2 separate regions of the Homo sapiens genome follow, and region 1 is linked to region 2. Evidence: fine-mapped expression QTL. A gene starts in region 2. The other region holds a variant in brackets. All regions are shown on one strand. Distances are from middle to middle.

Region 1 (5,385 bases), 30 kb before region 2:
AAGGCTGAATAGTCTTCCATTGTATGAATGCACTGCAGCGTGTTTTTTCATTCATCTGTCCACGAACCCTTGGGTTGCTTCCCCATTTTGGCTGTTGTGAATAATGCTGCTATGAATATGGGTGTACAAATATCTCTTCCACTCCTGGCTTCTAATTCTTTTTGGTAGGAACCCACAAGTGCAACTGCGGGAACATCTGATGATTCTGTTTCTAATTTTTCCAGTACACGCCATACTATTTTCCCTGTTCCTTCATGGTTTTACATTCCCTCCAATCATATTCGAGCATTCCTACTTCCCTCTCGTTTCACCAATGCTTGTTTATCATATCCATCCTAATGTGTGGTATCACATTATTGGTTTGATTTGTGCTTCCCTATGATTAGTGATTTGAACATCACTTTAGATGTTTATTGGCCATTGCTATATCTTCTTTAGGGACATGTCTACTCAAATCTTCTGACCATTGTTAATGGGATGCTTTGGGTTTCTTGTTGTTTAGTTCTGGCTGTTCTTTATATATGATGGATATCAGCCTCTTTTCAGATATATGATTTGCAAATATTTTTCCTAATCCACGGGTTATCTTTTCACTCAGTTCACAGTGTTTTTTGATGTACAAAAGTGTCTGTCATTTAGATGTAATCCAAGGAATCTAATTTTCTTTTGTTGCCTATGCTTTTGGTGTCACATCCCAGAAAGCATTGCCCAATCTGATGTCATGAAAGTGTGGCCAATGTTTTCTTTTAGGCATATTATACTTTTAGCACTTGGGGTGAGGTCTTTGATCCAGTTTGTGTTAATTTTTGCACCTGGTGTGACATAGGGTCCACCTTCATTCTTCTGCATGTGGAGATCAAGTTTCTCCAACACCATTTCTTGAAAAGGCTGCTTTTCCACCAATGAACTTTCTTAGCACTCATGTTAAAAATCACTTGAACATATAGGTGAGAAGTTATTTCTGGGCTCAAAAACAAACAAACAGCAAGAGACAACAGATAAAGATACAGCATGGGCCGAGCGCAGTTGCTCACGCCTGTAATCCCAGCACTTTGGGAGGCCGAGGTGGGCGGATCACCTGAGGTCAGGAGTTCAAGACCAGCCTGACCGACAGGGAAAAACCCCCGTCTCTACTAAAAATACAACATTAGCTGGGTGTGCTGGCGCATGCCTGTAATCCCAGCTACTCGGGAGGTGGAGGCAGGAGAATCACTTGAACCCAGGAGGCAGAGGTTGCGGTGAGCCAAGACTGCACCACTACACTCCAGCCTGGGCAACAAGAGCGAAACTCCATCTCAAAACAAAAAAAAAACAAAAAAACAGCATGATTTCAAGAGCAGAAAGAGAAGAGCTTAAAAACCAGCATAATGAGAAAGTTAGGAAGCTTCTTACCAAAGCGTCTGGAAATATGCAAGAAATTCTTGTGAGTTAAATTTTCATACTGTACTATCAAACACTAGAACTCACTTATTCCATCTTTCTGTATTTTGGGACCCAATTATCCACTTCTCTTCATTCCCCATCCCACCCCTTTTCTTCCTAGCGTCTGCTAACCCCCTTTATACTCTCCACCTTCCTGAGATTCCTTTTGTGTGTAGGTGTGTGATGGAGTCTCTTTCTGTTGCCCAGGTTGGAGTATACAGGCACAATCCGGGCTCACTGCAACCTCCGCCTCCCGAGTTCAAGTGCTTCTTGGGCCTCAGCCTTCCGAGTAGCTGAGACTACAGGCACACGTCACCACACCCGGCTAATTTTTTGTGTTTTTAGTAGAGACGGGGGTTTCACTATGTTGGCCAGGAGGGTCTCGAACTCCTGGCCTCAAGTGATCCGTGTGACTCGGCCTCCCAAAGTGCTAGGATTACAGGCCTGAGCCACCACACCTGGCCAAGATTTTCTTTTTTGTTCCTACGTATAAGTGAGGACATGTAATATTTGTCATGCTGTGCCTGGCTTATTTCACTTAATATACAGACCTGTAATCTCATCCATTTTTTTCTGCAGTGGAGAGGATTTTACTCCTTTTTAGGCTGAATAATACTTCATTATGTGTGTATACCATAGTTTCTTAATTGAAACAAATTTCTAAAAAGCAAATATTTTTAAAATGTCTCAGAATGCGAAACTTTAGGGATACTGTGCCCATTTTATTCTTTTCTACTTCCCATTTTATGTATATGCAAGTGTATGTAATAAAGCAGCAATCAATGTATCAATCTATAACTTCAACAAATGTAAAATGAAAATGCTAAGTGGTGGCTGGGCGCGGTCACTCACGCCTGTAATCCCAGCACTTTGGGGGGCCGAAGTGGGTGGATCACCTGAGGTCGGGAGTTCAAGACCAGCCTGACCAATATGGAGAAACACTGTCTCTACTAAAAATACAAAAAAAAAAAAAAAAAAAAAATAGCTGGGCGCGGTAGCGCATGCCTGTAATCCCAGCTACTCAGAAGGCTGAGACAGGAGAATCGCTTGAATACGGGAGGCAGAGGTTGCAGTGAGCCGAGATTGTGCCATTGCACTCCAGCCTGGGCAACAAGAGTGAAACTCTGCCTCAAAAAAAAAAAAAAGAAAGAAAATATTACTCCCATTCTCGCAGGGGTTGTTCACCCCGATGATATTGTTTTCTAATATCCAGGGAAGGAGAGTATGATATTACTCCCAATATTGCAGGGGGTGTACACCTTTTTGTGATATTGTGTCTAATATCCAAGGAAACAGAGGATGATATTACTCCCAATATCGCAGAGGGTGGACACCCCCCTGGGATATTGTTCCTAATATCCCAGCGGGGAGAGGATGATATTACTCCCCATATCGAAGGAAATGTACACTACCCCTGTGATATTGTTCCTGATATCCAGAGAGGAAAAGAATGATATTACTCCCAACAGCGTAGGAAATGTATACCCGCGCTTGATATTTTTCCCAATATCCGGGGGGGGAGAGGATCATATTACTTCCAATATCACAGGGTGTGTACACCCCCTCTGTTATCTTGTTGCTAACATCCAGGTTTGGGGAGGATGTCATTACTCCCAATATCTCAGGGGTAGTACACAACCCCCCGTGACCTTGTTAGTAATTTCCTGGGTGGAGAGGATGATATTACTCCCAATATCACCAGGGTGTACACCCCACTGTGATATTTTTCTAAATATTCAGGGCGGGAGAGGATAATATTACTCCCAATATCGCAGAAGGTGCACATCC[CT/T]CCTGTGATATTGTTCATAGTATCCAGGGAAAAAGAGGATGATACTTTCAAAATAGCCGGGGTTTTCCACGACCCCCACGCCATGATGTTGTTCCTAATATCCAGGTGGGCAAAGAATCATATTACTCCAAATATCGCAGGTAGTATACAACCCCCTTGTAATGTTGTTCCTAATATCCAGGGAAGGAGGGAACGATATCACTACCAATATCGCACCAGCTGTACAACCCACTGTGATTTCATTTCTAAAAACCGTGGAGGAGAGGATATTACTTTCAATATCGCACGGATGTACACCCCCCACCCCGTGATACTGTTCCTAATATCCAGAGGGCGAGAGGATGATATTGCTCCTAATATCACAGGGGGTTTTACACCAATATCCCAGGAGGTGGACACCCCCCTGTGATGTTGTTCCTAATATCCAGGGGGAGAGAGGATGATATTACTCCCAATATCGCAGGGGATGTAAACCACCCGTGATATTACTTCTAATATCCAGGCAGAGAGAGGAAGATATTACTCCCAATATCGCAGCAGGTGTACAATCCCCGTGATTTGGTTTTTAACATCCAGGGGGCACAGGATGATATTACTACTCATGTTGCAGGGAGTGTACACACCCCTGTGAAACTCTTCCTAATATCCAGAGGGCGACAGGATGATATTACTCCCAATATCGCAGGGGGTACACACATCCCTGTGAAACTCTTCCTCATATCCAGAGGGAGAGAGGATACTACTCCCAATATTGCAGGGGGTGTACACAGCCTGTGATACTCTTCCTAATATCCAGAGAGAGAGAAGATGATATTACTCCCGATATCGCAGGGGGTGTACACAACCCTGTGATATTGTTCCTAATATCCAGAGCGAAAGAGGATGATATGACTCTCAATATCGCAAAGGGTGTACACCCCTCCTGTAATATTGTTCTGAATACCCTGGGAGGGAGAGGCTAAGATTACGTTGAATATCACAGGGAATGTACACCCTCCCCCTCTGATACCCTTCCTAATATCCAAGGGAAGAGAGGATAATTTTACTCCCAATATCGCAGAGGCAGTACACCCCCCCCCCCGTGATATTGTTCCTAATATACAAGGGGGGAGAGGATGATACTTCTCCCAATATCGCAGGGGTGTTCACATCCCCGGTTACATTTTTCCTAATATCTAGGGGAGAGACAATTAGATGACAGCAAATGTCACAGGGTCTGTACATCCCTTCCTGATATTGTTCCAATATCCAGGGGGGAAGAGGATGATATCAAATATCAAACGGGGTGTACGTCCCCCCCCCCCCACGATATTGTTCTTAATATTCATGAGGGGAGACGATGATATTACTCCAAATATCGCAGGGGTTGTTCACACCCCCTGTGATATTGTTTCTAATATCCAGGGGGGAGAAAATCATATTACTTCCAATATTGCAGGTGGTGTATACCCCACCTGAAATAGTGCACTGAATATCCAAAGAGGGAGAGGATGGTATTAATACCAATATCGAAGTGTGTGTACACGCCCCTTGTGACATGGTTTTTAATATCCAGGGGACGGGAGGATGATATTAGTCCCAACATCACAGAGGGTGTACACTACCCCTGTGATATTGTCCCTAACTTCCAGAGGGGAGAGGATGATATCACTCCCAATATCTCAGAAGTTGTACATCCCCCGTGACATTGTTCGTCATATCCAGGGAGGCACAGGATGACATTCCATTGAATTTCGCGACAGGCGTACACGCACACTGTGATATTGCTCCTAATATCCAAGAAGGGAGAGGATGATACTTCTCCCAATAAAGCAGTGGGTGTACGTTACCCCTGTGTTATTGTCTCTAATATCCGGGGGCGGGGGCGGGGGAGAGGATAACATTCCTTCGAATTTGGCAGGTGGTTTGATGCCCCTTGTGGTATTGGTTTTAATATCCAGCGGGGAAGAAAATACTACTACTCTCTATATCACAAGAAATGTACATCCCCCCTGTGATATTGCTACTAATATCCAGGGGTAGAGAGAATGATGTTACTCCCAATATCGTCAAAGTGTCCATCCCCGCTTTGGTATTGTTCTTAATATATGGACGGCAAGTATCATATGACTCCCATATGGAAGGGGGAATACACGCCCCTGTGATATTGTTCCCAGTATGCAGTGGAGGAGAGA
Region 2 (5,385 bases):
TACAGGGTGGGAGTAAGAAGTACAGAAAGATTGGAGTCTGATTTCCTGGGACCTTGAATGAACAGGTTAAGGCATTTGGACTCTGTCCTAAAAGCAGCGAAGAGTCAATGCATCACTAAGCCAAGATCAAATCTGTGCATCAAAAAAGTACCTCTAGGCCGGGTGTGGTGGCTCACATTAATCCCAGCAACTTGGGAGGCCGAGGCAAATCACTTGAGCTCAAAAGTTCAAGACCAGCCTGGGAAACATGATAAAACCCCATCTCTACCAAAAATATAAAAAATTAGCTGGGCCTGGTGGCAGGCGCCTGTAGTCCCAGTTACTTGAGGGGCTGAGGCAGGAGGATAACTTAAATGTGGGAGGCTGAGGCTGCAGTGAGCTGAGATCATGCCACTGTGCTCCAGCCTGAGTGACAAAGCGAGACCCTGTCTCAAAAAAAACAAAAATACAAAGTAATAAAATAAATTTAAAAAAAAAAAGACAAGTACCTTTGGCTAAAGGGCAAAGAATGGCTCTAAACCGTATTGGGGTCACAAACTGCTCTGAGAAGTGAATGAAGCCATGAAGACTGGGCTTTAAAAACATGACTCTCACACACACACATATACCAAATCTCACCTATTTCTAGAGACACCCACATCCACAGACTCCAGGGTAAAAACTTGTGGATTTAAGGCACAAAGGCTGGGCACGGAAGTCAGTTAAAGACCACTACAGTAGATGTAGTTACAGAAGCAGCATAATCAGGTGTGGGCGGTTTTTCATGTCCTACAGTCCTGGGTTTGAATCCCACCTCATCTACATCTTGCTCTATGACCTTAAGCGAATCACTCAACCTCTCTGAACTTCTTATCTGTAAATGGGGATAGTAGTGAGAATTAAGGTAACACATGTAAAATACAGTAGAATAGTGGTTGAAAACGATGACTTGAAAGCCAGACAACCTGGAATGGAACCCCAGCTCTGCCACTTGCTCCATGCTCATGATCTTGGGCAAGCTGCTTAACACCTATCTGCCACATATACAAAAGAGATAATAATGGCTACCTTGAAAGGGTTGAGGGCTGAATGAGCTAGCATGTATAAAACACTTAAATAAGTACCTGACAAATGGTAAATATCCACTAAGTATTAGCTGCTATAATTCATTATTACATTGTTACTGCCAAGAGATGATGCAAGGCTATAACACAGCAGTGGTAGAGAGAGTAGGAAGGAGAGAACAAGAGACTTGAGAACTAGAACATAATAACTAAATACATGCCCAGAGGGAGAGGGAGCTTCAAGTTCCTTATAACTCAGAGTATTCAGCTTGCAAACCTCCCCTGACTGGGAATTCACTAGCTCTCACAACAACCAGTCAATGTTCAGGAAGTTCTATTCAGTTATTCTGATTTATTTATTTATTTTATTTATGAAATGGGGTCTCACTCCATCACCCAGGCTGCAATACAGTGACACAATCTCTACTCACTGCAACTTCTGCCTCCCAGGCTCCCATCCCAGCCTCCCAAGCAGCTGGGAACACAGGCGAACACCACCACACCTGGCTAATTTTTTGTATTTTTGGTAAAGAAAGGGTTTTGCCATGTTACCCAGGCTGGTCTCGAACTCCTGAGCTCAAGAGATCCACCCGCCTCGGCCTCCCAAAGTGCTGGGATTACCGCACCCAGTCCAGTTATTCTTTCTGCTGAAGAATCTGTCTCTTAGTGCTTCAAACCACTTTTAGTTTTAGTTTTGGTACCCAAAGCCACACAAAATAAGTCTCACCTCTTTTCCACAAGTGAGTTTTTATTTAGGGGCAGCTATTCCACCACCCCCTCACCCCTTCTACAGGCTGAAGGTCCCCAGTCCTCAAAAACATGTCTGTTCCACATCACATCTTATCTGCATGGAATCCTAGCAGCTCTCCTCTAAGTATATTTCACTCATCTGGTTGACAGATGGTGAATATAAAAAGTATATTTCAGTTTGTGTCTGCCCCTTTTAAACTGTTGCTCAGCACAGGATACAGGGCAACGGTCTGTGGACCGCACAGAGATCAGGCCAGCTCTGCCTCTCAGCTGGCGATCAGCTCGCGTCTACCTGTACTATCAAGCACCATCACGTTTTGTTTTTGTCTCTACCACTAGGCAAACAATTCCTATATTCTGCTTATAGGGCAGAGACTATATTCCATTCATCACTATAATGGTAATTCCTAGTACCTTCTACAAAACAACTGCTCAATTGAGCCCAACCCAGGAATTCCAGGTTCTTCCAGGGGTTGCTGGATTAGTTTCTCCTACATGCTTGGATCAAGAAGGAGAAGGGCTCTCTTGCTCGTTTTGCCCTCCAGTTTTACTCCATCCAGCAGTTTTCTTCCCATCTAGAGACTCCCGGCTCTGGTCCGGCTCCCTTTCTTCCACGACTTCTCCCTCTTGTGTCCCCCGCAATCGTTCACACAAGCCACACATCTCACTTGTGCCCCAAGCCTGGGCTCCTCCCTCATTCTACGTGCTATTTTAGGATCCACTCCTCCAAGAAGTCAGTCCTGACCAACCCCATTCTCCTTCCCACAGCTGCCACATTTGGTCTGTGAAAACCTTGTTGTCCCCTGCCCCACACAGTGAGCAGTGAGCAAGCAGGGCCCACCAGAGTAGGGTCTGGAAAGTCTCGTCCCTCTTGTCCCCCCGAGTGGCAGAGGCTAACAGCCGCCTTCTCAAGCCTGGCTGGAGCACAGGGTGCGCCCATTCCCACCTTGAGTGTAGAGTTTGGAGCACGGATTCCTCAAGCTCGGCTCATGCCCTTCCTCCTCCTCCTCACGCCCTGGTGCGACCTCCGCAGGTACGCTTCAACCTCCGCACGGCGCTGAGCCACAAGAGACCAGCTAAAAGCAAAACCAGAAAACTTACTTGGCTCCATATCAAGAGACTCGGGACGGACGCAGGAAGGAATTCCCGCCCGGGTCCCGTATCCCCCGCCGCCACTACGCGCGAACCTCCACAGTCCACGTAACCAGGGAGGAACGGACTCCTCGGGTGTCTCGGGGGCGGCGCCCCGCGCCCAGGCTGGCTGGACTCGGAAGCTGGAGGAGCGCCCGCGTTCCACTGCCCCGGGGGATGCCCACGCCGGCACAGGAGAGGGGGCACACGGTTAAAACAGCTCCCACCTCCCCCAACCACAGTCCACGACCAGCCTCTCAGATGCCACCACTCTCCCGGCAGGCTCCAGACCACCTGGGTCGGAGGCTGAGCCGGGACCGGAAGCCGCACCGCCCCCCGCGCGCCGGGAAGCTCACCAGATCCCACGGCCCCGGAGGGGGCACCTGCCCAGCTCGCCGGGCCCCCGCACGCATGTAGCCGCCCACAACATCCGCGTAGTCACAGAAGCACACGCAGATAGTCATGCGTTGCTCTCTGATCTGGGGGCTGCTCCTTTCGTGGTTATGTCTCGGATTTTAAGAGTTGATGGTGATGAAGATCCCCCTCATGTGGACGAGTCCATTCAGCCCACCACCGAGAACGCTGTGGTGTTTCGGCCCGTACAACTCACTTCCGCCATAGAGACTGGAGGGAAGGAGGAGCCCTACGGGCTCTCGGCCGCCTCCCTAGGCCGAGCGGAGTCATCGGCGGCGAGCCTGGCCGGGAGACGCTGACGCGGTGCCCAACTCAGTCCGGACTGAGAGGTCTGGAAGGAACACTGATCACCGCAAGATGAGGGGCGTACCCCGTAGAGAGAGGTCCTGGAGATGAGCCCACACCGCTGTACTGCAGGACGCCCAGTGGATGGCAAAACTTGAGTTTGTTGAATGTGCGTAACAGACGGGATCCCTGGCCCTCCACCCACACAGATGCTGGAGAAAGGGGCTTCATCTCTCAGTGTTGCCTTTATGCAGCAGCACTACTTGATACCCCATGGTGACCAATCTGGTGACAGTCCTTCGGAGGCTAGTAATTCGGCCATTGCTTCTCTGCGTGACCCTCAACATCACTCATCCTTTCTGATGCTCTCTATAAACAGGTGGCTGTTGTGAGGATCACAGGAGATAACTCATATGAAAGATTTCTGTGACCTGTAAAGTCTAATATGAATACAAGTGTATTTTTAGTGCTGTGTAACTTCCTGGAGCGCATTTGGTTCTCCATGTAGATTGTAAGCCCAGAGCAGACAGGGCTTCGAGAGCTCGGTTAATGCACCCACCTCCAATAGGAGGCAGTATTTTTTTTTTTTTTTTTTTTTTTTTTTTTTTTGAGACGGCGTCTCGCTCTGTCGCCCAGGCTGGAGTGCAGTGGCGCTATCTCGGCTCACTGCAAGCTCCGCCTCCTGGGTTCACGTCATTCTCCTGCCTCAGCCTCCCGAGTAGCTGGGACTACAGGCGCCCACCACCACGCCCGGCTAATTTTTTTTGTATTTTTTTTAGTAGAGACGGGTTTTCACCGTGTTAGCCAGGATGGTCTCGATATCCTGACCTCGTGATCTGCCCGCCTCGGCCTCCCAAAGTGCTGGGATTACAGGCGTGAGCCACCGCGACCGGCCAGGAGGCATTCTTAAGGTGTTAGCTGGGGATTACCATGCTCATTTTCTGGCCCATTGGGGTGCCTCACGCCTGTGATCCCAACATTTTGGAAGGCTTAGGACAGAGCATCACCTGGGGCCGGGGGTTCAAGACCAGCCTGGTCGACATAGTGAGACTCCCATCTTTAAAATAAAAATTAAAAATTTAGCTGGGCGTGTTGGTGTACCCCTGTAGTCCCAGCTACTTCAGAGGCTGAGGTGGAGGATCACCTGAGCCCAGGAGGTTGAAGCTGCAGTGAGCTATAATCACGCCACTGCATTGCAGGCTGAATGACAAAACAAGATCCTGTCTCAAAAAGAAAAAAAAAAAAAAGTCGGGTGTGATGGCTCATGCCTGTAATCCCGGTACTTTGGGAGGTCGAGGCTGATGGATCACTCGAGGTCAGGAGTTTGAGACCAGCCTGGCCAATATGGTGAAACCTCATCTCTACCAAAAATACAAAAAAAAAAAAAAAGCCAGGTGTGGTGTCAGGCACCTGTAATCCCAGCTACTTGGGAGGCTGAGGCAGAAGAATTGCTTGAACCTGGGAGGTGGAGGTTGCAATGAGCTGAGACTGCACCACGGCACTCCAGCCTGGGCAACGGAGAGAAACCCTGTCTCAAAAAAAAAAAAAAAGCTGATTTTTCTAACACATGCTTTTATTTCCCAAAACGATAATAGATAACATTTATTAGGTGGAATGGAAAGGTCATGATTTTAAATACCATATATGTGTACATATAAATTTAAACCTGATACTAATCAATCCTGCAATATAGATAAGAAATTGGGCCGGGCATGGTGGCTCACGCCTGTAATCCCAGCACTTTGGGAGGCCGAGGCAGGTG

Which allele goes with the higher level. Alleles are on the strand shown, and positions count from the first base shown. SD is a standard deviation of normalised expression in the study named.
As copies of CT replace T in region 1, the expression in lymphoblastoid cells of the gene that starts at base 3,245 in region 2 goes up (moderate effect, 0.54 SD a copy in TwinsUK).

Evidence for each region. PIP is the estimated chance that this variant, and not a neighbour inherited with it, causes the effect. A credible set is the group of variants that fine-mapping cannot tell apart.
Region 1: its variant is the best candidate, but not a certain one, in a credible set for the expression of ATG101 in lymphoblastoid cells (TwinsUK, PIP 0.54).

What each region holds. Positions count from the first base shown.
Region 1 is chr12:52,097,642-52,103,026 of GRCh38, reverse strand. All of the region lies in intron 2 of SMIM41 (small integral membrane protein 41), which reads right to left. All of the region lies in intron 2 of SMIM41-AS1 (SMIM41 antisense RNA 1), which reads left to right. It also overlaps the pseudogene OR7E47P. Among named protein-coding and RNA genes, the nearest start is that of SMIM41-AS1, 18 kb to the left of the region's middle. The variant CT/T (reference allele first, on the strand shown) is at 3,211.
Region 2 is chr12:52,067,838-52,073,222 of GRCh38, reverse strand. ATG101 (autophagy related 101) reads right to left here and starts at 3,245. Exons shown (of 4, transcript NM_021934.5): 1 at 2,981-3,245; 2 at 2,740-2,869. RefSeq lists enhancers at 2,897-3,612, 3,490-3,779.